Linked DNA regions of Homo sapiens: all the other regions are linked to region 1. The links come from fine-mapping of genetic effects on gene expression. A gene starts in region 1. Each other region holds a variant in brackets. All regions are shown on one strand. Distances are from middle to middle.

Evidence for each region.
Region 2: its variant is fine-mapped to the expression of FLACC1 in whole blood (TOPMed, PIP above 0.99). The same link has a PIP of 0.9 or more in esophagus muscle, gastroesophageal junction, ileum, substantia nigra and transverse colon.
Region 3: its variant is fine-mapped to the expression of FLACC1 in substantia nigra (GTEx, PIP 0.96).

Annotation. Positions count from the first base shown.
Region 1 is chr2:201,351,201-201,362,189 of GRCh38, forward strand. It overlaps FLACC1 (flagellum associated containing coiled-coil domains 1), which reads right to left and starts at 6,145. Exons shown (of 15, transcript NM_001127391.3): 1 at 5,782-6,145; 2 at 92-251. The coding sequence starts at 204.
Region 2 is chr2:201,315,513-201,326,501 of GRCh38, forward strand. The region is part of intron 9 of FLACC1 (flagellum associated containing coiled-coil domains 1); the gene reads right to left. Among named protein-coding and RNA genes, the nearest start is that of FLACC1, 36 kb to the right of the region's middle. RefSeq lists enhancers at 4,448-4,949, 4,950-5,449. The variant A/G (reference allele first, on the strand shown) is at 4,897.
Region 3 is chr2:201,686,868-201,697,856 of GRCh38, forward strand. It overlaps MPP4 (MAGUK p55 scaffold protein 4), which reads right to left. Exons shown (of 22, transcript NM_033066.3): 2 at 7,009-7,187; 3 at 6,041-6,162; 4 at 3,335-3,412; 5 at 424-504. The coding sequence starts at 7,087. Among named protein-coding and RNA genes, the nearest start is that of MPP4, 6.3 kb to the right of the region's middle. The variant G/A (reference allele first, on the strand shown) is at 5,784.

The sequences.
Region 1 (10,989 bases):
ACACTTGCTGTTTTAGAAATCTTGTGAGAGAAATGAGGCTACAAATGGATCCCAAGGTCCCTGTGCCTACCCCATCCCAGATAATTCTTACTTGGAACTCCCTGTGGAGTTCTTGCGTGGTAGTTGAGGGGTCTTGATTAGCTTCCGTGGTCCCAAGTTCCAGGGGTCCCAGCAGGTGCAGTAGATGAGAGGGTTGGGGTACATGGCCAAAGGTCAGGGGGAGTCTTGGCTGCTAGATCAGGAGGCTCTTGCTGAAATTGAAAAACAACAGCAGAAGGTTAAACCATTTAGAATCAAAGCAAAAATACAGAAGAATTGGGAAGAACCCAGGGAGGACCCAAAGAACAATGGTAGATTCCAGAAGCTGTTGATCTGGTGCAGGGTCTTGACTATAGGTTAACAGCTCATCCCTTTCTACTCAGTAGACTTGACTTGAAAGCAATTTAAACTTTGCCATAACTGGCTGGGCATGGTGGCTCACGCCTGTAATCCCAGCACTTTGGGAGGCCGAGGTGGATGGATCACTTGAGGTCAGGAGTTTGAGACCAGCCTGGCCAACATGGTGAAACCCCGTCTCTACTGAAAATACAAAAATTAGCTGGGCATGGTGGCACACACCTATAGTCCCAGCTACTCAGGAGGCTGAGGTGGGAGGATTGCTTGAACCTGGGAGGCAGAGGTTGCAGTGAGCTGAGATTGTGCCACTGCACTCCAGCCTGGGTGAAGAGTGAGACTTCGTCTCAAAAAATAAAATAAGATACAAATAAAAATAAAACAAAATAATTAAAATAAAATAAAATTTGCCATAGCCGAGTCCTTGCTGTGAGCCAGGTAAAACTGCTCAATTATTGTTATGCTGATACTATAGATGAAGCTACTGAGACTCAGAGAAGTCACGGCGGCAGCAAGTTGCAGAGCTGGAAACAAACACAAATCTCTTTGACTCCCAAGCTCCTTCCTTTCCAGCAGGCCACACCAGTTCTCACTGAAGGGAAGAGAAATTCCCACAGCAAGTTCTGCACAGAACTTCCTGGAAAATTAGTTCTGCTGCTTGAGCTACAGTGCAAATGAATCTCCTCGTTTCTCATTCCTGGTCACCTTCTTGAATTACAGAGTGGAAACTCCTTCCCTGGCTCCCAAAAAACAAAACCCCTATTATGAGAATCTTGATGAAAGAAAACTATCAGATAAACATGGTGGCTTGACCACACTGGCTTATCTTCTTTCTTTTCCAGAATCCAACTAAAATTAGAGTACAGCATTAAAAGAGATTTAGTTCCACAAGAGCAAGAAAATGGGAGAGGAGACAAGATTGCACAAGGGATGTCCGTACATGTTTGGCATAGTAACTAGGGCTCTCTCCATAGCTCACTATAGCCTATGTGCCTGCAAAGACAGGGTATGAACAAGATGGAGCCAATTCACACATCAGAGGTCCCAGAGGGTGCAGGACTTGGAACTGGTAGATTACCTGATGATATTGACAGGCAGCTGGTAGATGTGTAGGAGCACATGGTAGGATGAATACTGTCCCTTTCCCTATACCGCATGTCCTAATCCCTGGAAAGTGTGACTATGTTACCTTACATGGCAAAAGCAGCTGTGATTAAATGAAAGATCTTGAGATAGAAAGATTAACCTGAATTATCAGTCAGAGAAGATGTGATAATGGAGGAAGAAGTAGGAGTGATTGAGGAAAAGGTCCAGGAGCCAAGGAATCGGGGCAGCATCTAGAAGCTGGAAAAGGCAAGGAAACGAATTCCCCCTGGAGCCTCCGGAAGGAATGCAGCTCTGCCGACCTCTTGATTTTAGCTCAGTGAGGCTCATTTTGGACTTTGACTTTCAGAATTGTAAGATTGTTGCTTGAGCCACTACATTTGTGGTAACTTTGTTACAGAGCAACCAGAACCAGAGCATTTGGGAGTGTGGGTGAGAGATTGGCAATAGAAACATAGAAACCTAAGAAAATAAAATGTGCAATTACTCCAGGTTAAAAAATATTGAATGAGAAAGTAAACATAATCATAGTATGGCACACACTCATATGTATCAAATGTAAATACTTAATAGTGACTTAGCCAAAAAGTGAACTGTGACTACATGGGAAGAATGAGTGGAATGGGGATGTATAAGAGCCAAATCCTCATCTGCTGTACCAGAAAGAAAAATTAACATACGGAGCACAGACAAATTACTTGGAAGTATGAGGTAAATAAAATTCCAAAGAAATAGATAGCAGAGTTGAAAATAATTGCCTCTAGGAGCACATTGAGAAGTAGAACTGACAGGTCAGGGGATGGGGCAGAAATTGAGACTTTTCCTTAATGAATTTTTAACATTAGTTGATTTTTAAATGATGTCAGTGGATATTTCTTTTCTCTTTTCTTCTTTTCTTTTCTTTTTTCTTTTCAGAGTCTCACTCTGTCACCCAGGCTGGAGTGCAGTGGCACAATCTTGGCTCACTACAACGTCTGCTTCCTGGGTTCAAGCGATTCTCCCGCCTCAGCCTCCTGTAGGTGTAGGCCTCCAGCCTCCTACAAGTGCCCACCACTATGCCTGGCTAAGTTTTGTATTTTTAGTAGAGACTGGGTTTCGCCATGTTGATCAGGCTGATCTTGCACTCCTGGTCTCAAGGGATTCTCCTGCCTCGGCCTCCCAAAGTGCTGGGATTACAGGCATGAGCCACTGTGCCCAGCCATGTCAGTGGATATTTCATTAGTAATAAAAACAAATGCCAAAAATGTTATAAGAATCAATGGCCTAACAGAAGCATTAAAGTGATAGCAGATTTAACTCAAATGTCTAAGTCTATGATTAGTTTTCAATATTACACTGGAATACATTTGCTTAAGAACCTGCTGAAAAAATGAAATCAACCTTTGTCTCCAACACGACTGATGCTTGAGAAACCCACTGATGGTGTCTAATGACCTTAAGAGCTACAGAGGACCTTAAGGTTGAATCTGTTTTACATATGAGGATACTAAAACTCACTCACTTGTAACTGCTGCTTTAACAGTACAAATCTTTAGAGGCTCGTGCTGTGAGTCCTGTGCTAGATGCTGGTTGGACCTTGCCCTCAGGGAGCTTGCAGTCAGCAGAGGAGTCGGCAGAAAGAGAGCTAAGTGAGCAGTGGAGCAAAGGCAAGAGACCTGGCCTTGGAAGAAAGGCAGCGTGTGCAGGGGTTGGCTGGGCCAGAGGCCTGGGACTAGGGAGTCTTCTGCAATAGAGGTCAGGGCTAGAAAGGAGTCCAGGGCTAGAAAGGAGTCCAGGAGACTGGCTAAACAGCAAAGGCCTGAAGAGCAGGTGACAGGGCCGCCATTTATAACTGTCCATACTCCACTGGGTTTGGGGGCCTGTTAGGGCCAAGTCAAGGAGATGAGGTCAGAGAAGCAGATGGGATCGAGTGCCCAGGTGGGAAGATGATGCTACAAGGGGCTGGAATTCAGGTGAGAGTCTGAAAGAAGGCTACAACAGTAGCAAAAAAGAAACTGCTTCTGCTTAGAACCTTGTATCTGCTTCCTGTACGAAAGGAGCCAACCCTGAACTTGGGAGATTTAGCAGGAGTCCATGGGGCAAGAAGTGAGAGGCTAAGGCAGGCCCACTTCTAGCAACTGCCTTCTCTCTTCTTGAAGGCCAGGACTCCACTATGGAGTGCTCTCTGTGCCTCAACACCTCCACTAAGCCTTGCAAAGTGGCTTGTCCACAACGGGCATTTGATGAATATTTCTTACCTGACTAGTAAACTTAGTGGTTGTAATCAGCTCATCATGGTGGTTGGGGCTAGCTCAACAAAGAGAAAAAGATGGTATGGTGGCTGATGCCTGTAATTCCAGCACTTTGGGAGGCCAAGGCGAGAGGATCACTTGACGCCAGGAGTTCGAGACCAGCCTAGCCAACAGGGCGAAACCCCGTCTCTACTAAAAACACAAAAATTAGCCAGGCATGGTGGCACATGCCTGTAATCCCAGCTACTCGGGAGGCTAAGGCAGGAGAATCACTTGAACCTGGGAGGTGGAGGTTGCAGTGAGCCGAGATCTCACCACTGCACTCCAGCCTGGATGACAGAACAAGACTCTGTCTCAATAAATAAATGAATAAAACAAAAAACAAAAACAAAGAGAAAAGAGATTCACAGATGAAACTGCCAAAATGTTGTAATCGTCATTACCATATTATAAATAACATTAAACATTTGCATTCAAAAGCCAGAAAGCAGAGGTAAATTGTATGGGTGATACAATCACTCAGTGGAGTTTTACATAGATTTTCAATGATCTTTGATGAATGTGTAGTTGTTTCCTTTTCCTCTTTCCCATGATAAACAATGTCTTGGTATATATTCTTTTGCTCTTAAGAAAAAAAAAAAAGAAGGCCTCACAGGTGTGGTGGCACATGTCTGTAATCCCAACACTTTGAGAGACTGAGGTGGGAGAGTCGCTTGAGGCTAGGAGTTTGAGACCAGCCTGGGAAACATATCGAGACTCTGTATCTACAAAAAATTTTAAAAATAGCCTAGTATGGTGGAGTGTGCCTGTAGTCCCAGCCACTTGGCAGGTGGTGCGGGAGGATCACTTGAGGCCAGGAGTTTGAAGTTGCAGTGAGCTAGGACCACACCACTGCATTTCAGCCTGGGTGACAGCACAAGACCCTGTCTCTAAAAAATAAATAAATAAATAAAATAAAAATAAAGGCCTTTTTCTTTGAACACCCATGGGAGTGATACTCAAAATATTTAACAACCAGTAAGACAAGGCTATTGAATAATCAACCAGGGTTGGAACAGGGTCCTGGGAGATCTCACTCCCACCTCCATGCCAGGCATTAACCCCTTAGTTGCTGAATCATGAGGTGGTCTGGGGGTGCCAGGGGAGGAGTTGGGACAACCAAGGTGGCAAGGAGGACATGCAAGGGGCTTGGACAATGGTCATCTACCAATCAATATGACAGTATTTTATTTATTATTATTATTGTTTTGAGACGGAGTTTTGCTCTTGTTGCCTAGGCTGGAGTGCAATGGTGTGGTCTTGGCTCACTGCAACCTCTACCTCCGAGGTTCAAGCGATTCTCCTGCCTCAGCTTCCCCAGTAGCTGGAATTACAGGCACCCGCCACCATGCCTGGCTAATTTTTGTATTTTTATAACGATGGGGTTTCACCATATTGGCCAGGCTGGTCTCAAACTCCTGACTTCAGGTGATCCACCCATCTCAGCCTCCCAAAGTGCTGGGATTACAGGTGTGAGCTACCGTGCCCTGCCTATATGGCAGTATTTTAATATTTCAGTAGCTAAAATCAGCCCTTGACTTCTCATAGCTTCTTAAGTGGGAACTACTTCTAACAGATTTTTGGGGCATCCTTCCAGAAATGTTGTGAGTGCATATAACCTTAAATGTTTTGCATATAGAACTTAACCTGTAGAGAAGCATAATAGATTTTTTAAATTATTTGCATAAGTGAGAGCATACTTTGCACACAATGTTGCATCTTGTTCTTTTTGTGTAACAGGATATCTAGTTGATATTTCCATGTCATCACAGATAGATCTGCATTTACAGTGGCTTGACATCATATAGCTCTAATTATAGAGGGGTGTGTGAGTGTGTGTAAGGATTTTTTCTCCCCCTTTTTTCCCTTTCCTGCACTTCTACCTGATGATTTTACCTGAGGCTTGCCCTAACAATAGTCACCAGTGAGCCGGCAGAGGCTTCAGAGAAGTTACTGGTTAGTATTAATAATCAGTAGAAAAAATAATATAAAACATCTTTTCCAAAGAGCTTACCTTGGACTGCCCAAAGATCTGTTATTCTCATGTGGCCCAAGTCAAACATCTTAAAGAAACCACCATGTTAGAGAGAAATGGTTCCCCATCAACACAGAATCAGAGTTTACTTTAGATCAAAAGCCACTTTAGTGGCCATTCCAAGTGGTTGAAATGCCGAAGGAGAAAATTCACAGTATATGTACTGCGGGAAGACAGACTTCTAGTGAATCCAATCAAAGGCTTTTACAAAGGCTGGCCTGGCACAAACATGAATTTCCCTTCTAAAGACAAAACAGTTGAAGTTTCTCAGTATTGCAATGAAATTAAACTAGAGGAGAAGGTCACCCCACCATTCAGATTCCTGTGACTTGGGCCTGAGTTGTGAGGTTTGCCCTTGGGAGATGGCAGGCCAAAGTTTGTTTATTTTGTTGCTATGGACACAGAACAGTAGCTCCTCATTGGCTCAGGGCTCTTTTCTTCAAGAGAGAAGGTTGGGAGAAACAGCCAATTAAATTCTCCAAGACACAAATCAGTGACCACCCTCAACAGCAAAGAATTCATACTTTTAACACTGGATTTCCACTTTCGTCATCAGTCATGGGACAAAAAAGTTTAAGATATATCTTCAGAGGAAATAGAATTCAACAGCACTTTTAGGCTTCATTGGTCTATGGCAATAGTTACCAGGCAGGATCTGTGATGGATTTTTAATTCCTCTGTGATCTACTCACAGAAACCTAAAACTCTAGACACTTTTTTCCCTCGAGTTTAAGGCTTTGAAATCTGTGAAAGTAAAAATCCCCCAAGGCAGGAATCTTTTGCAGTCACAAGGTTTTCCGATTTTTTTTTTTAAATAAAGCTGCTTTTTCTTACTATAGAAAAAAGTACTTGCTTATTACAACCCAGTGGCTTTCATTTTAGTTTTACTGCCACTCATTATAAGAAATACATTTTACAAATTTTGTAATAAAAAAATTTCATGAAATAATACTCTTATTATTTGCTATTCTCTTCTATTTCTTTTTCTTCTTTAAATTAAAGCTGATTATAATCCACTAGATTGATTTCATGATCCTGGTGGGTCACAACCCCTAGCTTACAAAATATTGTTATAAATTCATCTATTCACTCAACTTCACATTTGTTGTCTACTGTGTGCCAGGCACTATTGCTAGGTGTGGGGATATACCTCAGTTCTTATACTCAATACAACTTAGAGACCAATGAGAAAACAGACAATAAAAAAGCTCAATAAAAGCATAATTAATTTTTTTTTCCTTTGAGACAGTAGCTCACTCTGTTACCCAGGCTGCGGTGCAGTGGCAGTGGCAGTGCAGGCTGCATGCATAGCTCACTGCAGCCTTGACCTCCTGGACTCAAGCGATCCTTCTGCCTCAGACTCCCAAGTAGATGGGACTACACAGGTGCACAGCACCATGCCCAGCTAATTTTTTTTTTTTTTTTTTTTTTTGAGACGGAGTCTCGCTCTGTCACCCAGGCTGGAGTGCAGTGGCGGGATCTCGGCTCACTGCAAGCTCCGCCTCCCGGGTTCACGCCATTCTCCTGCCTCAGCCTCCCAAGTAGCTGGGACTACAGGCGCCCGCCACTACGCCCGGCTAATTTTTTTGTATTTTTAGTAGAGACGGGGTTTCACCGTTTTAGCCGGGATGGTCTCGATCTCCTGACCTCGTGATCCGCCCGCCTCGGCCTCCCAAAGTGCTGGGATTACAGGCGTGAGCCACTGCGCCCGGCCGCCCAGCTAATTTTTTTGACTTTTAGTATACATGAGGCCTTGCTATGTTGTCCAGGCTGGTCTTGTACTCCTGAATTCAAGTGATCCTCCTGCTTCGGCCTCCCAAAGTGCTGGGATTACAGGTGTAAGTCACCATGCAGCCACAATGACTCATATTGAGACTTGCCAGAAGCAGTGGGAGTTCATAGCAGGAGTTACTCTTCTAGTCCAGTGAGTCAGGCAGCAGTGTTAAACAGAGAAGAGATCTGACTAGATCTACATATCAGAAAGATCATTCTGACTGCAATATAGGGAAGCAATTGGAAGGGCCAGGAAAACCAGGTAAAAGTCTGTGGCAGTGGTCGTCATGGGACCTGACGATGGCCCTGACTGAGGAGCAGCAGTGGGGATGGAGAGAAGACATGATAGAACTTGGTGATTGACTGGATGCTGGGATGAGCGAAAAGGAGAAGGTGATGATTCCTGGCTTTCCAGCTCGAGCAATTGAGTTGACCGTGGTGCCATTTATTGAGATAGGAAAGTGTGGAGGGATAAACAGGTTCTAGGGAGCAGATTATTAGTTCAGTTTTGGATATGTTGAGGTGCAGGGAGACTAATAGACAAGTGGTGACGTCTGTTAGAGTTTCTTACATATTTTAGAAGTTCAGAGGAAGATTCTGGCCTAGAAGCAGATTTAGGAGTCTTCAGAGTGGATACTATTCCAAGCCAAGGGAGCGAGTGAGATCACATATAGAGAGAGTATTGTGTAAGGAGAGAAGAGGGTCTAGAACAGAGCTCTGAGGACACCAGTATTTACGACAAGATTTCTCAGTGTGGGCCATGTGTAGTTAAAATGCATAGACCTGTTGCTTGATTGCAAGTGGCTTACATCAAAGAGGTTTATTAACCTCATGAAATAGAGTCTGGAGGCAGTGCTATCAGAGTTGGTGCAAAGATTCAGCAATGTCCTTGGAGAACTGGGCTCTTTCCATCTCTCTGTTATGCCAGCCTCGGTGTGTTGATGGAGGGAAGCGTCTTGGTTGCACTATGGCTGCTTCAACTCTGAGCACCATGAACAGGCTAGATGAAGAGAGACTTTCAAAGATTAAAAGGAGGGAAATAACTTAGAGAAGAATTGATAGACTCTATTAGTCATCTAGACAATCTGTCTCCATCCAGAGATTGAATATTTACTTTGAGTGTGTTTAATGTGTAAAATTTTATATTTAAATCCTTTCTTATGATTAAAAAAAAAAAGCAGCAGGATTTGGGTCTTGAGTGAAGCATGGCTAAAAACAGAGATACAGAGGAAGTAAGTGCTGAAGGAATACCCCAGCCACTCGACTTGGCAAAGGCTCAGCACTAATTACTACTACTTGGGTATCCCCATTCTCCTTTCATCTTTTTGGACATGAGTAAAGCTTCGCCAGTTCCAAAACAGCTGAGGAGAAGGAAATGAAGGTGTTTAGGGGCTAAGTGTTAAGTGCTCTTCTCTTGGATGAAATTGGGGAAGTGCTGGCATTCTCAGTAACTTCGCCTAAAGCAAAGTGTCTTACTATTTGGAACAGAGGTGGAGGAGGCCACCAATAGTAAAACAAAGTATAAGTTGAAAAATGAATGAGAGAAACTGCAACTTAATTCTGACAGCAATATTATCAAAATTGGTCTGCACAGGGCTTGGGGAAATAGATATCCTCTTGTGTGATGCTGCAGCATTCACGAAGTGGCAAACATGGTCAGCTGGGAGCATTCGGAGGCTTTCCATCTGTGGAGCGCTATTTGTGGCTCTATGAGAACACTCCCAGTGTGGAAAAGACAGTGTTCTCTTAAGAAGCTTGTAATTATCTCCAACTTGCTCACTTGCTCAACTCTCTTTGATCTTTGGCTTTCAACATCTGACTTTAGAGTGGTGCTATGCTAACTCCCATGGATCATCCTGAATAGACCCGACCAGGTAGCCACAGGAATCCCGTGAAAGCCTGTAGTGCTACCCTTGCACCTAGAAAGAGGGGCCACTGTTCTGAGCCCTGGGCTTTAGAGGGCTCTGCATAGGACAGGCACACACAGAAACCTACATTTGTTCAAGAATACGTGGGCCCGGGCTGGGTGCAGTGGCTCATGCCTGTAATTCCAGCACTTTGAGAGGCCAAGGTGGGTGGATCAACTGAGGTCAGGAGTTTAAGAACAGCCTGGTCAACATGGTGAAACCCCGTCTCTACTAAAAATAAAAAAATTAGCTGGGTGTGGTGGTGCATGCTTGTAGTCCCAGCTACTCGGGAGGTTGAGGTGGAAGAATTGTACAAACCCAGGAGGCGGAGGTTGCAGTGAGCCAAGATCGTGCCACTGCATTCAAGCCTGGATGATAGAGCAAGACTCCATCTCAGAAGAGGAAGAAAACAAAAACAAAAACAAAAACACACGGGCCCTTGATCTGGAGCTCAGCTCTGAAACAGCAGGAACCATAACCCTAAAGATTCACTCTCATCATTAACCACATTCAGGTCTCAGGGAATGCTTCACCACATCTTTTACCCTTTACCTTCAAAACAAAAGATGACTGTGCCCAAATACTGTAAAGGTTTGTGGGTGATGCTGCTGCTGAGATCAGACACAGACACTGCTTTGGAGTGCAGGAAAGACTGGGGCAGCAGCAGTAAGGTAAGAGGAAAGGTAACCTGTCAAAACCTCTCAGATAGCATGAATGCAAGATTTGTGCATAATGAAATATATTTTCCAGTGGTGCTGAGCACCCATTTTTTGCTTCTTTTAATGCCTTAATTTGCAATTCCACAGGTATTCGCATACAGGAATGGTATTTGCAAGAGCTACATATGGTGGCTGAAGAACATTGTGCAATATGCATCCTGAGTACCCTTACATTTATATATATGTAGATCTAGATGGAACATGAAGCCTGGTACCAACTCTTCATATTACTGGATAGATCTAAAGATTGTTTGAGAGATGGTAAAAACAGCCATAGAAGTGGTAGTGAATTATATGAAATTAAAATACTCCATAGCATTTTCTGGCCTATCATAATGTTTGAATGTGATGTGAAAATCTTGCTTTTGAACAACTTAGTGATTTTTCTGAGAAGGCAAGACGATCAAATTTTGTGAAACAATACTTTGATTTTTATATATTTGGGTTTTCTGTATTTTTCATCATCTCATAACACCTTCGGGGTGCTTTCTTCATAACTTCTTAAACTAAAGAACAAAACACTTCATGCTATTGCTGGCACCATGACCTGCCAGCCAACAGTTGTATTTCAGCATCTTTTCTGAATTTGCACAGTAACATTTGCTCATTTGAAAATTTTGTGGTATTTTGGCCCTTAACTCATAAAAACTAATGAAAAACAGAAAAATAAAACTTACTATTAGCCTAACTCAAATTTAATATAGTGAAACTAACAATAGAAGTCAACAGGATGCTTAAAGCCCCAAATCTTAAACCTCATCAGAAGGTTTTTTGGACTTAAACACATC
Region 2 (10,989 bases), 36 kb before region 1:
AAATATATATGCACCTAACACTGGAGCTCCCAAATTTATAAAACAATTACTCCTAGACCTAAAAAATGAGATAGACAGCAACACAATGATAGTGGCGGACTTCATTACTCCACTGACAGCACTAGACAGGTCAAGAAGACAGAAAGTTAACAAAGAAACAATAGATTTAAAATATACCCTGGAACAAATGGACTTAAGAGATATTTACAGAACATTCTATCCAACAACCCCAGAATATACATTTATTCAACAGCATATGGAACTTTCTCCCAGATAGACCATATGATAGGCCACAAAACAAGCCTCAATAAATTTAAAATTGAAATTATATCAAGCATTCTCTCAGACCACAGTGGAATAAAACTGGAAATCAACTCCAAAAGGAATGTTCAAAACCATGCAAATACATGGAAATTAAATAACCTGTTCCTGAATGATTATTGAGTCAACAATGAAATCAAGATGGAAATTTAAAAAAATTCTTCAAACTGAATGACAACAGTGACATAAAACCTATCAAAACCTCTGGGATACAGCAAAGGCAGTGCAAAGAGGAAAGCTAAAAGCCCTAAACACTTATATAAAAAAGTCTGAAAGAGCAAAAACAGACAATATAAGGTCACACCTCAAGGAACTAGAGAAACAAGAACAAACCAAACACAAACCCAGCAGAAGAAAGGAAATAACCAAGATCAGAGCAGAACTGAATGAAATCAAACAAACAAACAAACAAAAAATACAAAAGATAAATGAAACAAAAAGCTGGTTCTTTGAAAAGATAAATAAAATTGATAGATCATTAGCAAGATTAACCAAGAAGAGAGAAAATCCAAATAAGCTTAATTAGAAATGAAAAGGGAGATATTACAACTGACACCACAGAAATACAAGAGATCATTCAAGGCTACTGTGAACACCTTTACGTGCATAAACTAGAAAACCTAGAGGAGACAGATAAATTCCTGGAAAGATACAACCCTCCTAGCTTAAATCAGGAAGAATTAGATACCCCGAACAGACCAATAACAAGCAGTGAGATTGGAATGATAATTAAAAAATTACCTACACAAAAAAGTCCAGGACTAGATGGATTCACAGCAGAACTCTACCAGACATTCAAAGAAGGATTGGTACCAATCCTATTAACACTATTCCACAAGATAAAGAGGGAATCCTCCCTAAATCATTGTATGAAGCCAGTATCACCCTAATACTAAAAACAGGAAAAGACATAACCAAAAAAGAAAACTACAGACCAATATCCTTGATGAACATAGATGCAAAAATCCTTAACAAAATACTGGCTAACTGAATCCAACAACATATCAAAAAGATAATCCACCATAATCAAGTGGGTTTCATACCAGGGATATAGGCTTAACATACTCAAGTCAATAAATGTGATACACAACATAAAAAGAATTAAAAATAAAAATCACATGATCATTTCAATAGATGCGGAAAAAGCATTTGACAAAATCCAGCATGCTTTATGATTAAAACTCTCAGCAAAACTAGCATACAAGGGCCATACCTCAATGTAATAAAAGCCATCTATGACAAACCCACAGCCAAAATCATACTGAATGGGGAAAAGTTGGAAGCATTCCCACTGAGGACTGGAACATGACAAGGATGCCCACTCTCACCACTCCTCTTCAACATAGTACTGGAAGTCCTAGCCAGAGCAATCAGACAAGAGAGAGAAATAAAGGGCACCCAAATCAGTAAAGAGGAAGTCAAACTATTGCTGTTTGCTGATGATATAATTGTATACCTACAAAACCCTAAAGATTCCTCCAAAAAGCTCCTAGAACTGATAAAAGAATTCAGTAAAGTTTCCAGATACAAAATTAATGTGCACAAATCAGTAGCTCTGCTATACACTGACAGCGACTAAGGTGAAAATCAAATCAAGAACTCAACCCCTTTTACAATAGCTGCAAAAGAAAAATAAAATGTTTGGACTATACCTAACCAAGGAGTTGTAAGACCTGTACAAGGAAAACTATAAAACACTGCTAAAGAAATCATAGATGACACAAACAAATGGAAACACATCCCATGCTCACTGATGGGTAGAATCAATATTGTGAAAAAGATCATACTGCCAAAAGCAATCTACAAATTTAATGCAATTCCCATCAAAATACCACCATCGTTTTTCACAGAACTAGAAAAAAAACTCCTTAAATCCATATGGAACCAAAAAAGAACCCACATAGCCAAAGCAAGACTAAGCAAAACAAAACAAAGCAAAACAAGCAAACAAAAAATCAAAAAGCAAAAAACCTAACAAATCTGGAGGCATCACATTACCTGATTTCAAACTATATTATATGGCCATAGTCACCAAAACACCATGGTACTGGTATAAATATAGGCACATAGACCAATGGAACAGAACAGTGAACTCAGAAATAAACCCAAATACTTACAGCCAACTGATCTTTGACTAAGCAAACACAAATATAAAGTGGGGAAAGCACATCTTATTCAACAAATGGTGCTGGGATAATTGGCTAGCCACATGTAGGAGAATGAAACTGGATCCTCATCTCTCATCTTACACAAAAATAAACTCAAGATGGATCAAGGACTTAAATCTAAGACCTGAAAATATAAAAATTCTAGAAGATAACATCAGAAAAACCCTTCTAGACATTGGCTTAGGCAAGGATTTCATTACCAAGAACACAAAAGCAAATGTAATAAAAACAAAGATAAATGGCTGGGACTTAATTAAACTAAAGAGCTTTTGCATGGCAAAAAGAACAGTCATCAGAGCAAACAGACAACCCACAGAGTGGGAGAAAATCTTCACAATCTATACATCTGACAAAGGACTAATATCCAGAATCTACAACAAACTAAAACAAATTAGCAAGAAAAAACAAATAACCCATCAAAAAGTGGGCTAAGGACATGAATAGACAATTCTCAAAAGAAGATATACAAATGGCCAACAAACATATGAAAAAGTGCTCAACATCACTAATGATCAGGGAAATGCAAATCAAAACCACAATGAGATACCACCTTACTCCTACAAGAATGGCCATAATCAAAAAATAAAAAAAAAATACATGTTGGCATGGATGTGGTGAACAGAGAACACTTCTACACTGCTGGTGGGAATGTAAACTAGTACAACTGCTATGGAAAACAGCATAGAGATTCTTTAAAGAACTAAAAGTAGAACTACCATTTGATTCAGAAATTCCATATATATATGATAGAATACTACTCAGTCATAAAAAGTAATGAATTAATGGCATCAACACAACTTGGATGAGATTGGAGACTTATTCTAAGTGAAGTAACTCAGGAATGGAAAACCAAACATCGTATGTTCTCACTCATAAGTGGAAGCTAAGCTATGAGGATGCAAAGGCATAAGAATAACACAATGGATTTTGGGGACTCAGGGGGAAAGAGTGGGAAGGGGGTGAGGGATAAAAGACTACAAATTGAGTGCAGTGTATACTGCTCGGGTGATGGGCACACCAAAATCTCACAAATCACCACTAAAGTACTTACTCATGTAACCAAACACCTCCTGTTTCCTAATAACCCATAGAAATAAAAAAATTTAAAAAAATATAAGGCTACAGTAACCAAAACAGCTTGGTACTGATACAAAAACAGACACATAGATCAATGGAACAGAATAGCAAACTCAGAAATAAAGCTGCACACCTACATCCATCTGATCTTCAACAAAGTAGACAAAAACAAGTGGTGGGGAAGGAGTTCCCTATTCAATAAATGATGCTGGGATAGCTGGCTAGCCATATGCAGAAAAATAAAACTGGGCCCCTACCTTTCACCATATACAAAAATCAACCCAAGATGCCTTAAAGATTTAAACATAAGAACTCAAACTCTAAGAATCCTAGAAGAAAACCTAGGAAACACCATTCTGAACACTGGCCTTGGGAAAGAATTTATGACTAAGTCCTCAAAAGCAACTGCAACAAAAACAAAAATTGACAAGTGGGACCTAATTAAACTAAAGAGCTTCTGCACAGCAAAAAAACCCGTCAACAAAGTAAACAGGCAACCTACAAAAAAAGAGAAAATATTCACAAACTACGCATCTGACAAATATCTAATATCCAGAATCTATAAGTAACTTAAACAATTGAACAAGCAAAAAACAACCCCATTAAAAAGTGGGCAAAAGACATGAACAGACACTTCTCAAAAGAAGACAGAAGTTTGTTTGTGTTTTTCCAAAATGGCAGATTAGAGGCATTGCTAGCATACTTCTCCCACTTGGAAAAACAAAATAGTTGTAGAGATTCACACTGAACTTTTTTCAAGGAGCAATGCAGAAACTGAACAGGAAAACCAAAGGAATCTACAGACCCTTTGAAGGAAGCAGGAGGCTGCAGGTTACACTGTGAATCAGGCAAAGGGCTGTGAGTTCCCAGAGTGTGAGAAGGGGGACTCACCCTACATTACTCCTGGAATACACACCCCCACTGTGGACCCTGAAAGTCCAGACCATGGGAGAAAGCCCTAACCCTATGCAGCACAGGAACTGACTTGGGGAGGGATGTGGAATATAAAAGTGGGAGCAGTGGCAGGAAGATTCTTGCACACACTCCCAGATTTCAGCATGGAGAGAGGGAAGCCATTTCTTACTGTTCCTCACGGGGAACCCTGTGGAGGACAGCCAAAAAGTTCAGGCAGTGGTCGCAGGTTGAAAGAAGCCTCCAACTGGGTTTCATGATATAACCTTAGGTGCGGATGAACTCCCTTGGCCAGGGCCAGGGTGGAGGAGAGTGAAAAGTGGGCTGCAGCCATGAGTGCAGGAGCTGCCAGTGCAGGAACTGGGTGCCTGGCTTTGCAGTGGACAGGGAGGGGCTTGGCCTGAAAGCCGTGATTGCT[A/G]TCTCTGCAGGGAACGTATATGACTCGGGACAGTTGCAAGTTCTGAGTGCAGGCTAACTGGAACTTAGCTTGCTGCTGCCAGTGGAACACTGTGGGAGTGCATCTGTCTTGCCAAGTGCATGGGATCTGTGTGGGGCTCACAGCCACCTGCTTCTCCTCACTCTGCACAAACCCTTCTGTGTGGCAAAGCCAGCAACACTGCCTTTTGGAACATCAACCCAGTGGCCTGAGAACCACTCCCATCCCCTGGCTTCCACAGGGGCTGCTGCTTGCCCTGCACAGGGAGACTCAGAGCGCAAGCCCACCTGAACCAACCCTCACCCTGCTTTGCCCCGTCACCTGCCCTGGTAGTTTAACACAAAGGACAGAAACTCTTGGGGGCTATATAGCCCCACTCATTGCCTGAGAAACCAGAGTAACCCCTCTGGACAACATAAAGCAAGCAAAAGTCCTATTGCTACTATTGCAGCTGGTTCCCTTTTGTAAGCATCACCTCTTGGCTGGAGGCCAACCAACACAGTCCATTACAGCATCTCCTGGTAGAATAACAACGCACCTAGGAAGAAGATGGCTGTGTAATCTCAGCTATCACCACTGCCTGCACCATTCTGGCTAACCAGGAGGTCCTGAGTTTGTCCACATGACCAGTTCATTACTACTAAAACCAGTGTTCGAGAAAGCCAACACACTAAGGCTATCAATAACCAAGGACTCTCACAGAGTCTATTACCCTGCCACGCCCATTAGAACTGGTGCTGCTACCCACTGTTGGGAGACTTGAAGAGAGGTCACATCACTGGATCCCTTGCAGATATTCCCTAGCACCAGCCTGGGGTGTGGTACCTTCACTGGACAGCTAGACCCAGAGACCCTGTTCCCTTAGGAGTGGGATCCCCCTGATCCTAGGGGAACAGGGAGTGCACCACATCAAGAGAACACCCTGTGGGAGAAAATAATCCAGACAGCAGGACTTAAGAACCAGATCTTTCTGCTAGTGGGAAGTTTCTTTCAGCAGAGGCACAGTTGCAGTGCTGGGCTCAGCAGGAAAAGTCTTCAGCTCTAACCCAACAGACAGACAACCCCCCCACCCATTGTCTACCACTGCAGGCACAGTTGGAGCTTCTCCCATTGGAGCTTGGTGTGAGTGCAACTATAGACAGTCTTTCTGGAAGACATCAGGGTGACTGCATCCCCATAGGAGGGGCACCCTCTAGGTTCAAGCTTGTATGAGAGACGTTCACAATTTTTCTCTATTTGGAACATCAAAATTCCTGCAGATGAAAAGAGGTGGCTGTCTGGAGATGAAAAGCTGGAGCACTGAAACAGGAGTGTGTTTGAGAGGGATAACTTTCCTGCTAACCTGGCAGGGGAGCTGAGGTGGCTCCAACCCTTACCCCAGGTAAGACCTCATTGCAACTCACTCCTCCAGCCACCTCTGTCAAGGCTGAGACCTCTGCCCATCACTGGGTATTGCATTTACCCACCTGCTTTAGCCACAGCTGATTCCTACCCAGGGACACCTCCCCTACTGGCCTGAAGCTGGAACCATCAAACTAGTAAATAAAACACTGGAGAAAAGGCCGGGTGCAGTGGCTCATGCCTGTAATCCCAAAACTTTGGGAGGCTGAGGCGGGTGGATCACTTGAGGTCAGGGGTTCGAGACCAGCCCGGCCAATATGGTGAAACCCTGTCTCTACTAAAAATACAAAAATTAGTTGGGTGTGGTGGCAGGCACCTGTAATCCCAGCTACTTGGGAGGCTGAGGCACAAGAATCACTTGAACCCAGGAGGCGGAGATTGCAGTGAGATCATGACACTGCACTCCAGCCTGGGCAACAGAGTGAGATTCAGCCTCAAAAAAAAAAAAGAAAAAAAAAACTGGACGAAAATGCGTAAATAAAAAAGGGCATGCCACAGGGGAATGAGATAAGCTTTAAGAGACCTCTTATCATTACAGCCCCATAGGAGACAGTGATCTTGCTAATATACCAAGCACATTGCTACTACAACCAGCATCTAAGAAAGCCACATAAAAAAACTCTCTATAACCAAGGAACTATTACAGAGTCTTCACCCCTGAAAGCACCAAAAACCAAATTAGGCCATAATATGATAAGCATTAAAGTCACATCCTTAAGTGGAAAAAAGAAATTAAAAAACAAACACAAAAAGAAACACAGTCAAATCAAACATCAATTCAAGGATAATTAGAAGAAATAATCTACCCAAATGAGGAGGAACCAGAAAAGGAACTCTGGTAATATGAAAAAACAGGGTTCTATAACACCCTCAAAAGATAACACTAGCTCTCCAGCAATGGATCCAAAGTAGGACGAACTCTTTAAAATACCAGATAAGGAATTCAGAAGGTCAATTATTAAGCTACTCAAGGAGATTTCAGAGAAAGATGAAAACTATTATAAATTTAAAAAGCATTTCAGGATATGAATGAAAAATTTTCTAGAGATATAGATATTATCAAGAAAAAACAATAAGAATTTCTAGAAATGAAAGACACACTTAGGGAATACAAAATGCAGCAGAAAGCTTTAACAATAGACTAGAACAAGTAGAAGAAAGAATTTCAGAGCTTGAAGACAAGGTTTTTAAACTAACCCAATCAGACAAAAATAAAGAAAAAAGAATAAAAAGAAATGAACAAAGTCTTCAAGAAATATGGGATTATGTTAAACAGCCAAACCTAAGAATAACTGGTGTTCCAGAGGAAGAAGAGAAAATAACAAGTCTGGAAAACTTATTTCAGGGAATAATTGAGGAAAACCTTTCTGGCGTGGCTAGAGATCTAGATATCCAAATCCAAGAAGCTCAAAGAACTCCTGGGAAATTAATTGCAAAAAGATCTTCACCAAGGCATATAGTCATCAGGCTATCTAAACTCAACATGAAGGAAATAATTCTAAGAGCAGTAAGACAAAAGCATCAGGTAAGCTATAAAGGAAAACCTATCTGAATAACAGCAGACTTCTCAGCAGAAACCTTACAAGCCAGAAGGTATTGGGGTCTTATCTTCAATCTCCTTAAACAGAAAAAAACTGTCAGCCAAGAATTCTGTATCCTGTAAAGCTAGGTTTTGTAATTGAAGGAGAAATAAAAGTCATTTTCAGATAAACAAATGCTGAGGGAATTTGTCACTAGCAAACCAAACTACAAGAAATGCTACCAGCCTGGCCACATGGCAAAACCCTGTCTTTACTAAAAAATACAAAAATTAGCCAGGTGTGATTGTGCATGCTTGTAATCTCAGCTACTTGGGAGGCTGAGGCATGAGAATCTCTTGAACCCAGGAGACAGAGTTTGCAGTGAGCCAAGATTGCAACATTGCACTCCAGCCTGGGCAACAGAGCCAGACTCTATCAAAAAAAAAAAAAAAAAAAGTAAGGAAGGAAGGAAGGAAAGAAAAGAAAGAAAGGTGGGCTAAAAGGAGTTTTAAACATTGAAACAAAAGCCAAATACGCACCAAAATAGAATCTCTTGAAAGCTTAAAACTCATGAAGTCTATAAAGCAATAACAGAATGAAAAAAGAAAAGCTATATACATAACAATTAACATGATGAAGAGAAGAGTACTTCACATCTCAATATTAATGTTGAATGTAAATGGCCTAAACGCTCCACTTAAAAAATACAGAATGACAGAATGGATAACAAAAATCACAATCCAAATATCTGCTGTCTTCAAGAGACTCACCTAACATGAAAGGATTCAAATAAACTCAAGGGAAAAGGGTGGAAAAAGATATTCCATGCAAATGGACACCAAAAGCAAGCAGGAGTAGCTATTCTTATATCAGACGAAACAAACTTCAAAGCAACAACAGTAAGACAAGACAAAGATGGTCAATATAATGATAAAAGGATCAATCCAACAAGAAGATATTACAATCCTAAATTTACATGCATCTAACACTGGAGCTTGCAGATTCATAAAACAATTACTACTAGACCTAAGAAATGAGATAGACAGCAACACAGTAATGGTGGGATACTTTAATATACCACTGACAGCACTAGACAAGTCTTTGAGACAGAAGGCCAACAGAGAAAAAATGGACTTAAATGACATGCTAAAACAAATGAACATAACAGCTATTTACAGAACATTCTACCCAAGAACTGTAGAATGTATGTTCTTCTCATTGGTACATAGAACAGTCTCTAAGATAGGCCATATGATAGGTCACAAAACAAGTCTCAATTAATTTTTAAAAATTGAAATCCTATGAAGTATCTTCTCAGGCCATAGCAGAATAAAACTAAAAATCAATTTCAAAGGGAATCCTCAAAACTATACAGATACATGGAAATAAAATAATCCATTCCTGAATGATATCTGGGGTAAACAGTGAAATCAAGATGGAAATTTAAAAAATTTTTGAATTGAATCATAATGACACAAGTTATCAAAACCTCTGGGATAGGTGGGGTTCGGTGGCTCATGCCTGTAATTCTAGCACTTTGGGAGGCCAAACAGGTGGATCACTTGAGGCCAGGAGTTTGAGACCAGGCTGGCCAACATGGTGAAACCCCATCTTTACTAAAAATACAAAAATTAGCTGGGTGTGGTAACAGGCGCCTGTAGTCTCAGTCTCAGCTACTTGGGAGGCTGAGGTGCGAGAATTGCTTGAACTTGGGAGGCAGAGCTTGCAGTGAGCCAAGATAGTGCCACCGCACTCCAGCCTGGTTGACAGAGTGAGACTGTCTCAAAAAACTAAAAACTAAAAAAACCTCTGGGATACAGCAAAAGCAGTGCTAGGAAAGTTTATAGTGCTAAACGCCTGCATCAAAAAGTCTGAAAGAGCACAAATTGACAATGTCACACTGCAAGGAACTGGAGAAACAAAAAAAACGAAGTCCAAAGATAGAAGAAAAGAAATAATGAACATCAGAGCAGAACTAACTGAAATTCAAACAAAAAATATAAAAAGATCAATGAAACAAAAAGCTGGTTCTTTGAAAAAATAAAATAGACTAGATTAGCCAAGAAAAGAAGAAAAGATTAAACAAGTAAAGAAGAGAAGATCTAAATAAGCTCAATTAGAAATGAAATTGGAGACATTACAACCCACAGAACCACAGAGATACAAAAGATCACTTGAGGCTACTATGAACGCCTTTTTGCATACAAACTGGAAAACCTAGAGGAAATAGACAAATTCCTGGAAACGTACAACTCTCCTGTATTAAATCAGGAAGAAACAGAAACCCTGAACAGGTGAATAACAAGCAGCAAGATTGAATCAGTAATTTCAAAATTGCCAAGAACAACAAAAAAAGCCCAGGACTAGATGGATTCACAGCTGAATTCCACCAGATGTTCAATGAAGAATTGGTACAATCCTACTGAAACAATTCCGAAAGATTGAGAAAGAGGGAATCCTCTCTAAATCATTCTATGCAGCCAGTATCGCCCTGATATCCAAATCAGGAAAGAACACAACAAATAAAAAAAACTACAGACCAATTTCACTGATGTTGAACATAGATGCAAAAATCCTCAACAAAATACTAGCTAACCGACCCCAATAGCACATCAAAAAGATAATTCAAGTGGATTTTGTCCCAGGGAGGCAGGGATGGTTTAACACACACAAGTCAATAAATGTGATACATCACATAAACAGAATTGAAAACAAAAAACACATGATCATCTCAATAGATTCAGAAAAAGCATTTAATAAAATCCAGCATCCTTCATAATTAAAACTCCTAACAAACTAGGCATAGAAGGGACCTACCTCAATAATAAAAGCCATATGTGACAAACCCACAGCCAACATCATACTGAATGGAAAAAAGTTGAAAGCATTCCCCTTGAGAACCGGAACAAGACAAGATGGCCACCTTCACTTTCACCACTCTCATTCAACATAGTTCTGGAAGTCCTAGCTAGAGCAATTAGACAGGAGAAAGAAATAAAGGGCGTCCAAATTGGAAAAGAAGAAGTCAAACTATTGCTGTTTGAAGATTATATAATTGTATACCTAGAAAATCCTAAAGACTCCTCCAAAGACTCTAAGATTTGATAAACGAATTCAGTGAAGTCTCAGTTTACAAAATCAGTGTACACATATC
Region 3 (10,989 bases), 340 kb after region 1:
TCATAAACCCTCTCACAGGGATAATCATCATTATACTGTATATTCCAAATACACACACATTATCTAAAACTCAAAATAGTCCCACTTTGGAAAGGAAGCATGGAGGTATTCCTCTATAACTAGAACATTCCCTGTTTGCTACCCAAGATTTTTGGATGGGCAATAGCTTTGTAGGGGAAACAAAGCACCATGGAAAGTTCTGGATGCCTCCTCATAAACACAGCAGGCTTGACTGCATGATTGACAACACTGAGCTAGTCACATCTGAGTCCCACATATTTAAGTACAATCTGTTGGTCAGTAACCGTGTACAGTAATAGAACATCTATTCAGAGAGAACATTTTCCATCACATATATTTCTCCTTCCCAACTTTGTCTATGTGCCAGATGGGGACATCTTTTCTATTTTAGCAGGCACTTGCCTTGAAGTGTGGAGCCTGGAGCATTTGTCTCAGCTCTTGGATCTCAGGGGAAGTAGGGGTTTCACGTAATAACTCCACTACCTGGTTCATGGAAAAGGATACATTATAAAAATTTTAAAAAATCTTTATCACCTACTTAACCTCACCCAGGCTGGATAACATACATACTAACATGATATTGACCTTTAAAAAGCTATTACTGGAGCCTTCTTTTTCATCTATAAAGCCATCCATTAAAGCCTACCATCCTTCTTTATTCATTAAAATTGCTACTTTAATATAGCAAATAGAATTCAAGAGTTGAGATGGATCTAAACCCAATGCCCAATCCTGGCACATAGGCATGGAGGATGTACCAATTTGGTAACAGCATATGAACCAAGGCACTTTTCCTCTAGTGCCTCTAAAATATAATAGCTGTTGGCTGATGTCAATGCTTTGCAGGCTTATGAAGCTGTATGAGTTTCTCTAGGAACGTACCTGGGGAACTCAAAGAGCTTAATCCCATGGGATGCTCCATTCTTCAAATAGAAAATGGAAATCATAATTTCTCTTTTAGAGTATCAGTTGATTAGCAATTTTAATGCTTGTTACAATAAAAAGTGCTAAGCGGAAAAAAATTCTGCTCTCTCTGCTGTGGTTTAGGCGTAGACCTGCTTTCAGAGGACATAAGACCTTTCAAGACTTTAGTCAGCCCCATTACCTACAGTCAAATGAAAACAAGCAGTTTACAAAGGTTTACCTCCATTCACTGGGATTTCAACTGAATAAAATATTATATATGTGCTTTTCCTGTGGACAACTGAGAACAATTTGAATTGTTGATTACTGGAATTGAGAGCAGAAGTTTTTTCTTTCTTTTTTGCTGTTTCTTTTAATATGGGATGGGCAATAAATAATAAAATGGATTATATTTATTCATTCATTCGACAAATATTTATTGAACACTACTGTGTGCTAGGAACTGTTTTAGGTGATGCAAAAACAGCAGTGGCTGACAAAAATCTCCATTCTCATGGAGTTTACATTCTAGGGAGGAGACACAGACAACAAATGAAATGTGTAAGTAAAATAGTTTTGTTTGATGGTGACAAGTGTTAAGAAGAAAAATAAACCAGGGAAGCTGGCTAGGAAGTGCTAGGAGGGAATACAATTTTAGATAGGTGACCAGGAAAAGCCTCACTGAGAAGGTGGCATTTGAGTGGAGACTGGAAGGAGATGAGGGACAGATCAGGTATATATCTGGGCAAGAGCATTGCTGACATAAGGAATGGCGAGTGCAAAGGGCCCCAGGCAGAAGCATGCCTGATGATTTGTTTTTTGGGTTTGTTTGTTTGTTTTTTGAGATAGTCTCACTCTGTCACCCAGGTTGGAGTGCAGTGGTGTGATCTCGGCTCACTGCAACCTCTACTTCCTGGGTTCAAGCAATTTTCGTGCCTCCCAAGTAGCTGGGATTACAGGCATGCACCACAACGCCCAGCTAATTTTTGTTGTTGTTGTATTTTTAGTGGAGATGGGGTTTCGCTATGTTGGCCAGGCTGGTCTTGAACTCCTGGGCTCAAGTGATCAGCCTGCCTCAGGCTCCCAAAGTGCTGGGATTATAGCCATGAGCTACTGCACCCAGCCTGATGAATTTAAACAATAACAAGGGGTCAATGTGGCTGGAACAGAGTGAATGGAGAAAGCATTGAGTGTGAAGTCAAAGAGGTAACAGCAGCTTGATTGTGTTCAGCTATGTAAGAACTTTGGTGTTTAGGCCAGGTGTGGTGGCTCACACCTGTAATCCCAGCACTTTGGGAGGCCAAGGTGGGCAGATAGCTTAGTGTCAGGAGTTTGAGACCAGCCTGGCCAAAATGGTGAAACCCCGTCTCTACCCAAAATACAGAAATTAGCCAGGTGTAGTGGGTTCCTGTTGTCCTAGCAACTCAGGAGGCTGAGGCACGAGAATTGCTTGAACCCAGGAGGCAGAGGTTGCAGTGAGCAGAGATCATGCCACTGCACTGTAGTCTGGGTGAAAGACCAGGACTCTGTATCAAAAACAAAAAAGCAAAACAAAAAAAGAGCTTTGGTGTTTACTCTGAGATGGGAAGTCATTTGAAGGGTTTGAGTGTTAGTGAGGAAGTGACATGATTTGACTTGCTTTCAAAGAGGGTATTTTTGGTTGCCGTGTTGAGAGTAGACTGTAGAGGAGCAAGAGTGGACACAGGAGACCAGATAGGAGGCAATTTTGCAACTATCTATGTAAGAGATGATGATGATGGTATGGGGTGGTGAGATCCTGGATATATTTTGGTGAGATCCTGGATATATTTTGAAAGTAGAGCTGAGAGGATTTGCTATCTGATTGGGTGTGAGGTATCAGAAAAAGAGAGTCGAAATGACCCCTAAGATTCTGGCCTGAGCACTGCAAGAACACAGGTATCGTTTCTGAGATAGAAAAGGCTTCCAGAAGAGTGGGTGGGGGTGATCGGCAGGTGGGGAAGATCGGGAGCTCAGTTTGGAACATGTGAACTTGGAGGAGTCCGTTAGACATCCAAGTGAGATGGAGAGGAGGCGGTTGGATATTTGAGACTGGAATTTAGGGAAATCTCCAGGCTAGAGATATAAATCCGAGAATTATTACTATAACATTACCCTGTTTATGAAGGGCAAATGGAGTACGAGACTTAGGAAAAAAGAAAGAAATGAACACACGCTAAAAATGACGTGGGTGGTGGTGGGGAGTGTTTTAATTTGGGGAGATACCCAGCCAATGTTCTTCCTTATATTAAAGTTCAATTAGAAACATTTATTAGATGCATAGTCATCAATAAAACTTTTCCTTAGAACCTTTAATTCATTTGAACTAGCAATGTGGGGAAAATGGCACCACATCAGAGCTCTACTATCCTGTGGAATAAAATCTCCTTACCTCATAGGATAACACCTGTGCATGTGGTGTGGCAGGAACTAGTTTCTTTTCTTTAAATTCCTGGAGGCAGTCATAAATCTGCAGAAGGACAAGGGAGGGAGAATTGATATTGATAATATGACTATTGCCATTTTGGATTTAAGACTCTCAAAGAGAAGAAACACCCCAGGCAACTGCACCAATGGCTGCACAGCACGGTGTGGTTGGTGTTTAGTAAGTTGTGTCTCTAGTTGCCAAAGAGAAATGAACTTGAGTTTGGTGGCCCCGATGCTTCAAAAGCTTAATTATTGGCTGCCATTGGGAAATTGATCTTCTCCAAGCATTTCAGTAATAAAAAGAAATTCAAACTTTTAATCTTGTTAAACAGAGTGAGGGTAGGGTGTCTGGGACTGAAACCAATGGGGATTTGTAGATGATGCATAAAGGAGCGTCTTAAAGGAGGGGCCCTTTAGGACCAGACACCTGTGAGGACCCCTGTGTTGGGCGCCTGTGCAGCATGTGAGCTGTGTGGCTCAGGGCCACTGAAGGTTCTGAATAAGTGGTGGGCATGCCACAAACGCTTCTCTGTACTCTGCTTTGTGCTTTGGGGCTGTTTCCCATTCCTCTCCTAATTCTCTAGTACAAGTTCATTTTTTAAAATTCCAACTTCATCTCCACATACCCTTGGGAATTTTTTTCCATACCAAGATCTAGGTTTGGGCTGAGGACACCAAAGCCTGCCTAGCTCTGCAATGCACCCCTTGATCTTATTTTAGGAATTGAGTTTCTCTTACAGACGAAGAAATAAGGCCCAAGGGGCCGGCTGAGCCCCCAGTCTTTTCTATCCAGATTAGTGATGATGCTGCTTCCCTGCTCTATCCCAGGGCCCGCATTCAGGTTTACCTGGAAGTGATGAAGGCTGATTGGATAACTCACCAAGGGCCTAGCAGTGGTGAGCAAAGGCAATGCCCATCATGAAATTAAAACTCCTATCTTAGCTGATCCTGTGGGAAAATGCCTGATAGAAATCAGGTGTTTTATAACAGGTGCTATGAGGAGTACTTCATTCATGCCAAAGATGTTGCCACTTTTATTGTATAATATTAACATGCACTATAAGACAGACCACATTTCACACTTAAGTGAAGGAAATACCCACATCCCAAAAAATAACTTCAAAAGGATCTCTCTTAATAATAACACTTGTTCAGAACAACAAAATTATAGTAGTGGCATCTACTAGATAGTAGATGCTATTTTTCTACTATCTATTAGACGCTATTGTATAGTGCATGGAATTTTAGCCAAATTAAAAAAGAATAAACTTTATTTATTCTATTTTATTTATTTATTTTGAGATGGAGTCTCTCTCTGTCACACAGGCTGGAGTGCAGTGGCTCAATCTTGGCTCACTACAACCTCTGCCTCCCAGGTTTAAGCAATTCTCGTGCCTCAGCCTCCAGAGTAGCTGAGATTACAGGTGCGTGCCACTGCATATGGCTAATTTTTTGTATTTTTAGTAGAGACAGGGTTTTGCCATGTTGGCCAGGCTGGTCTCAACCTCCTGACCTCAGGTGATCCACCAGCCTCGGCCTCCCAAAATGTTGGGATTACAGGCATGAACCATCACACTGGGCCAGAAGAAACTTTAGAATAAGAAACTTCAGGGTACCTAAACAGAACTGTAGATATTTTACTTTCTAACTTTAACAAACAAATAGGAATAACTTTTTAAAGCACTTTTATTTATCCAGGGTTGCTGCAAGGACAAACGGTTGTAGCCAGCTGATAAAGTGTTGCCAATGACCATCGTGGTGGCTGTTTTGTGATTCCAGGGGGCCTCTGGAAGAAAAAGAGCTGTGGGGAGAAAAGGAAGGGACTACCATATTCTCCTCCACCTAAGTTAATTCCTTCCTAAGCGAAGAAGTTTGTGTAGCTCTTCTCTGAGAGTTGCCTTCTAAGAACTTTTTCCAAGTTGAAATTTCCTACCAGTTGATAAATGACACCATTGGGTAAGTAGTTGCTATGATCTGAATGTGTACTTCCAAAATGCATATGTGATGATATTAAAAGGTAAGGCTAGCTGGGTGTGGTGGCTCATGCCTGTAATCCCAGCACTTTGGGAAGCTGAGCCGGACGGATCACCTGAGGTCAGGAGTTTGAGACCAGCCTGGCCAACATGGTGAAACCCCATCTCTATTAAAACTACAAAAATGAGCCAAGTGTGGTGGTGGGTGCCTGTAATCCCAGCTACTCAGGAGGCTGAGGCAGGAGAATCGCTTGAAGCTGGGAGGCGGAGGTTGCAGTGAGTTGAGATCAGGCCAGCGCATTCCAGCCTGGGCAACAGAGTGAGACTCTGTCTCAAAAAAAAAAAAAAAAAATAGGTAAGGTCTTTGGGAGCCGATAGGTCATCAGGGCTCTGCCCTCATGAATATGGAATTAATGCCCTTATACAAGAGACCCCAAGAGA[G/A]CTGGCTAGCCCCTTCCATTATGTGAGGACATAGCAAGAAGTTACCATTTAGGAACCAGAGAGGGAGCCCTCAAAAGACACTGAATCTGCTGCCGACTGGATTTTGGACTTCCTGGCCTACAGAACTGTGAGATATCAATTTCTGTTGTTTATAAACTATTCCACTATCCAGCCTGAATGGACTGAAGCTGTCATTTTCTACACACTCCCCACAACCCCTTCAGCAAGCAAAGGCTTCCGAGCAAAGAAGCACTCACCTTTAGCAGAGCCTGAAGCCACGGCGAGTGGAGGAGATCGTACAAGAGACACACTCCATTCACATCTCTGCCGTAGAACAGACTCAGCTCTTGCAGCACAAGCCTCAGGATCTGGGAGAGGCCTAGGAAAGGAAGAGAGCAGAGATGGGGTGGCAGGTGCGGGTGTAAATGTGAAAGGCAACTCAGATAGCTGGGGCATGCCATGGGGTCTCACCAGGAGTGGAAATGACACTGGATCTCAGGCCAAAAGATCTGACTTCAAGCCCTGTTCCACCTCTTACTTTGTGAACGTCACAAAGTCACATAGCTATCCGAAACCCAGTTTCTTTGCCCAAGATGAGAAGGTGCTAGCTTTGTCATAGTGTTGTTCTTAACACTGAGTAAAATAATAGATCGTGATGTGCAGATGTAAGATGTCATGAAAGGAAAATGATTGCTTTCCCCTCCCCCATCTTACCAGCCTGTCGTTTATCCCAAAATTATCTACTTGTGTTCTGTATCCTCTTTCTCTAACTCAAACATAAGAGTCATTTCATCCTCTCAAAAAATTCTTATTGAGAGTGATATTGAAAAATTCTAACTCCCAATAGATTTAATGCAAAGCTCAGTATTCTCCTGATTAAAGGGTCTCTAAACAGATTTTAGTGAATATTCTATTTTTTGACAGTATTTTCACAGTGTTGTAGTGATATTCTGAATGTGAACAACTTAAGAAGTTCTAAGTTTTACATAAAACATTGTCAGGTAAGGGAAAAAAAGGTTTTGAATCCATCATGTCCATTTATTTCCTTCCTGGCTTGAAATTTGTTCTTAAAGTTATCACTGGTAGGGCAGTAGTGCAACCAAAAATGTACAAGATCCTCATAGGGATCACAGTAAGTCTGTCAGGATTTCTGCCTATTCATTTGATCACATGTCAGAGGTGATATTACTTTCTGGTCTAGAAAAGGAGTCCTGGTGACACATACCATTCTGTGGATTGGTGGCTGTAGAAAGCTTCATGTCCTTCTTGTCTGGTGGATCTGCTCCTTTGTCTGACTGTATCATCCTCCCTGCCGGAGCTTCTGAAAGGAATTCAGGACTAGGAAGCGGGTCAATACACGGCACACAGCTCACTCAGTCCCACTGGCCACCAGCTCTCAGCACACTGGAATATATTTTCAATAGCATTTCCTCAGCAAGCCAGGCCCTGTGCTACACACTGGGATACACATCAAATGAAACACAGTCTTCCCCTGTGGTGCCTACTCTTAACCATCACCAGTGGCGTGAAAGAGAAAACGACTATTGCATAAAATGCTCCCCCTAACTCCATGTTTTAAACACATTTTTTAGCCTTTCAGAAGAATTGATTTCCTAGAAACCACACCTACCCACTTTTTAGAAGTAAATGACAAATACTATATTTATTTATCTTCCACCTCTTTACCCAGTTGACTTTACCCATCATTAGAGCTCAGAAAAGTCTTGCGTGGACCAGCTCCACTCAGGTGCCCCATTTCCTCTCATTGCACCTTATAGTTCTTCATAGAAGAACTAGCTGGTCTGGTCACAGTTGCAAGAATTATGGGTTATTACTGAGGCACACTCTTGGAATTTAGAGACAACACTGTAACGATCTGTTGTTTTGTTTTGTTTCTAGAGTGCTTTCCTGGCTCAATCCTACAATTTGTATAGAGTCTGGACAGTTTTCTTTTTCCCTTTTTTTTTTTTTTTTTTTTTTTTTGAGACAGGGTCTCACTCTGTTGCTTAGGCTGAAGTGTGGTGGCATGATCATGGCTCATGATCATGCACCCTCGACCTCTTAGGTTCAAATCATCCTGCTACCTCAGCCTCTTGAGTATCTGGGACCATAGGCATGTGCCACCACACTCGGCTAATTTTTAACTTCTTGTAGAGATGGGGTCTCACTATGTTGCCCAGGCTGGTCTCCAACTTCTGGGCAATCTTCCCACCTTGGCTTCTCTAAGCACTGGGATAATAGGTGTGAGCCATCGCACCTGGCCTAGACAGTTTTCTTAACCCTATCAGATTTAATACCAGTCTTTGAAAACTAGTTTGAAATGCTTATTTTAATGTTTATTTTTGGTATTGCTTTAGGTAGATTTAGTTTCAAGAAGTAGAAACCCAGAATAATTTTGGCTTAGCAGAGTAGTTTATATCTTGTTCGTGTGAAAGTTCAGAGACAGAGAGAATCCAGGGCTAATAGGGCAGCCTTGCTCCACGAAGTCCTCAGGGAATAGGTTCCTTCCGGCTACTGCTCTGTCACCCTAGGGTGTAGCATGGTTCTGTCTACCTGCTCCAAGATGGCAGCTGCAGCTCCAGTCATCACGCCTACATTTCGGCCAACAGGGTAGGGGAGGAAGGGATTAAGAAAACACGGGCAAAGAAAATATGCCTACTGCTCTTTAAGCAAAGTTTTCCACAAGTTGCCCTACACAGTGAAGAATCGCCTCATGCCCTGTATAGCTTTCAAATGTCCCACTGAACTATCATGTCACTGAAAAACAATAAAACCTGTAGTTATCTGAATCCAGACGCCAACTTTTCTTTACATATAAACACAAGACACTTTTGCACTGGTTTAATATACAATGGGGAGTAGGGTATTGAGGCAGGGAAGGTGAAAAAGCCAGTAATAGGTTGTCATCAAGAAGTAACCACTGTAGGCAACTAGAGCTTAATCCCACGGGGGAACAGGGGCCAAGGGAGTGAGAGTATTTACACACCAATGGCAACATGAGGGTTTTTATACACCAATGGCAACCTTGGTATATAAATACCCTCACTCTCTTGGCCCCTGTTAGAGCCAACAGGTTAAGAGCTCTTCCCAGAGAGCATTATTTCTGACTCTTCCAGCATGCAACATGTATACCTTCGGATAGGAAGTGGAGGGGCTAGCAGCTGGAGTGGGCTCAGAGTGCACCAAAATGGTAACAACCAAGGGGTATGCGGTGGGGGTAGGGACCAACAACATTGTTATAGTAGGACAATAAAGAATACATTAAGGTTTTTGTTATAAAAGGAACACTTCAAATTAGTTGTTAAAGACTGGAGTATTGACTCTGATAGGGTTGAGAACCACTGTCTAGAATCTAGACTGATTGTGGGTTGAAGCCAGGAAGGCTATCTAAAAGAAGAAAAGATCATTATTATTTTGACTCTAAATTCTAAGGCAGTGAGAAGAGCAACACAGAAAGCTGTTACAGCATTTTAGACAACTTTCCCCTACACATTCCTTTCCAAACACCCTGAAGTCTTCCGGTTTGCTAGGTTCTACCAAAGCTTGACATCGTTATGCTTTTGACTTGCCCTCCATCACCTACCTTGCCCACTTGTAATTGAGTCAGATTAAACAATGCGTTTTCCTGTGTTCTGTGTTGTTTTTGACTCTATTGAATCATTTAGCATCACAGCTGCATATCTGACTCATCTTCCTCCCTGGAGGGGAGCACTTCCAGGGTAGAAAATTGAAAAGGGAGATGGAGTGCCTGCTAGAGAGCAGACAAAAGTCAGAGCAGACAGATGAGGCTGACACTCAGGCTGACTCTTAAAATTGGTTCCCCTCCAGCACCTCACAAATCACACGTCCTTGGCAAAGCAGTGCAGATTAAACAAGCCAACTGTTGTTTGCACGTCATGAGGTGGACCACATTTCTGCCATATTTAATGCCCGAATGACTGTGCTGAGCTAGGCCTACCCATTCAGCAGTTGGGGGCACACACTAGAGACTACATATTTCTGAGATGAATTTATTGTGAGGGAGCTTTACAGATAGACTGTGCTTCACAGATAGGCGGTGGTTTCTTGAGTGAATGCAATGGTTAAAATAGCTTCTAATAAATCTAGAGCCAACTTCAGGGCTACCTAGATAACTAATTCATACATTCTAAAAGGCTCGTTTTGACCCAAAGTTTCTCAGCCATAGAGGCAAAAACAATAATTACAGTAATCTACAACTTATGCAAATTCTAAAAACTGTGCTTGGCTCCTCATCTTCAGGTTCCTATGACAAATTTATGGTGGACTGAATGTTGTGTCCCCACCCCCAATTCAGATGTTGAAGCCCTAATCCCCATTGTTGATGGCATTTGAAGATGGGGCCTTTGGGAGGTAACTGGGTTAAGGTCATGAGGTAGAGGCCTCAAGATGTCATTAGCGTCTGGGTAAGAGCCATCAGAGTTCATGTGTTCTCTCTCTCCCTGCCAGATGATGGCACAGTGAAAACGCGGCCATCTGAAAGCCAGGAAGAGAACCCTCGCAAGAACCCAACCATGCTGGCATCCCAATCTTCAACTTCCAGCCTCCAGAACTGTATGAGAAAATACATTTCTGTTGTTTAAGCCACTGTCTATGGTACTTTGTTATGACAGCCAAAGCTAAGACAAAACTCATAGAAAAAAACTTCCAGAAAATGATTTTCCCTCCCTCCAGGTAGCTAAGAAAACAGTTGCAACTTCTTGCCCTCATAGCACTTCTCATTTTCCCAGTTCTTGTATCCACTGGCTTGCTCAGTGTCTGTCTCCCGCAGGTGTCATGTCTGCAGAGGGCCTGGGGAGCAGAGATGTTGCTTATCTTGTTCATGCTGCAGCTTCACCTGCAACAGTGCTTGGGCCATAGCAAGCACTTGGTATGTTCAGTTGTTGTTGGGAAGGGGTAGAACAAGGAGAGGCCAAGATCCAGAAGTAAAAGGCTGATACCTCCCTCAAGGCAGTAGCCAGCAGCTGGGACTTCAATCCTAATGGGGGAGGCAGCTGAACTCCAGAGGCCTGTGCCCTCCCTTCCTTTCCTCCCTGGCCTGGTATCCTGACTTAAACCTCTTTCCCTATCAAACTTTAAAACTGGGGGCAGAAGCGGATCTTAGAGATAATCAAATGCAAAACCTTTGTTTTACAGATAAGGAATCTGACATTCAAGGAGGTATTCAGTAGAGTTAACATGTAGTAAA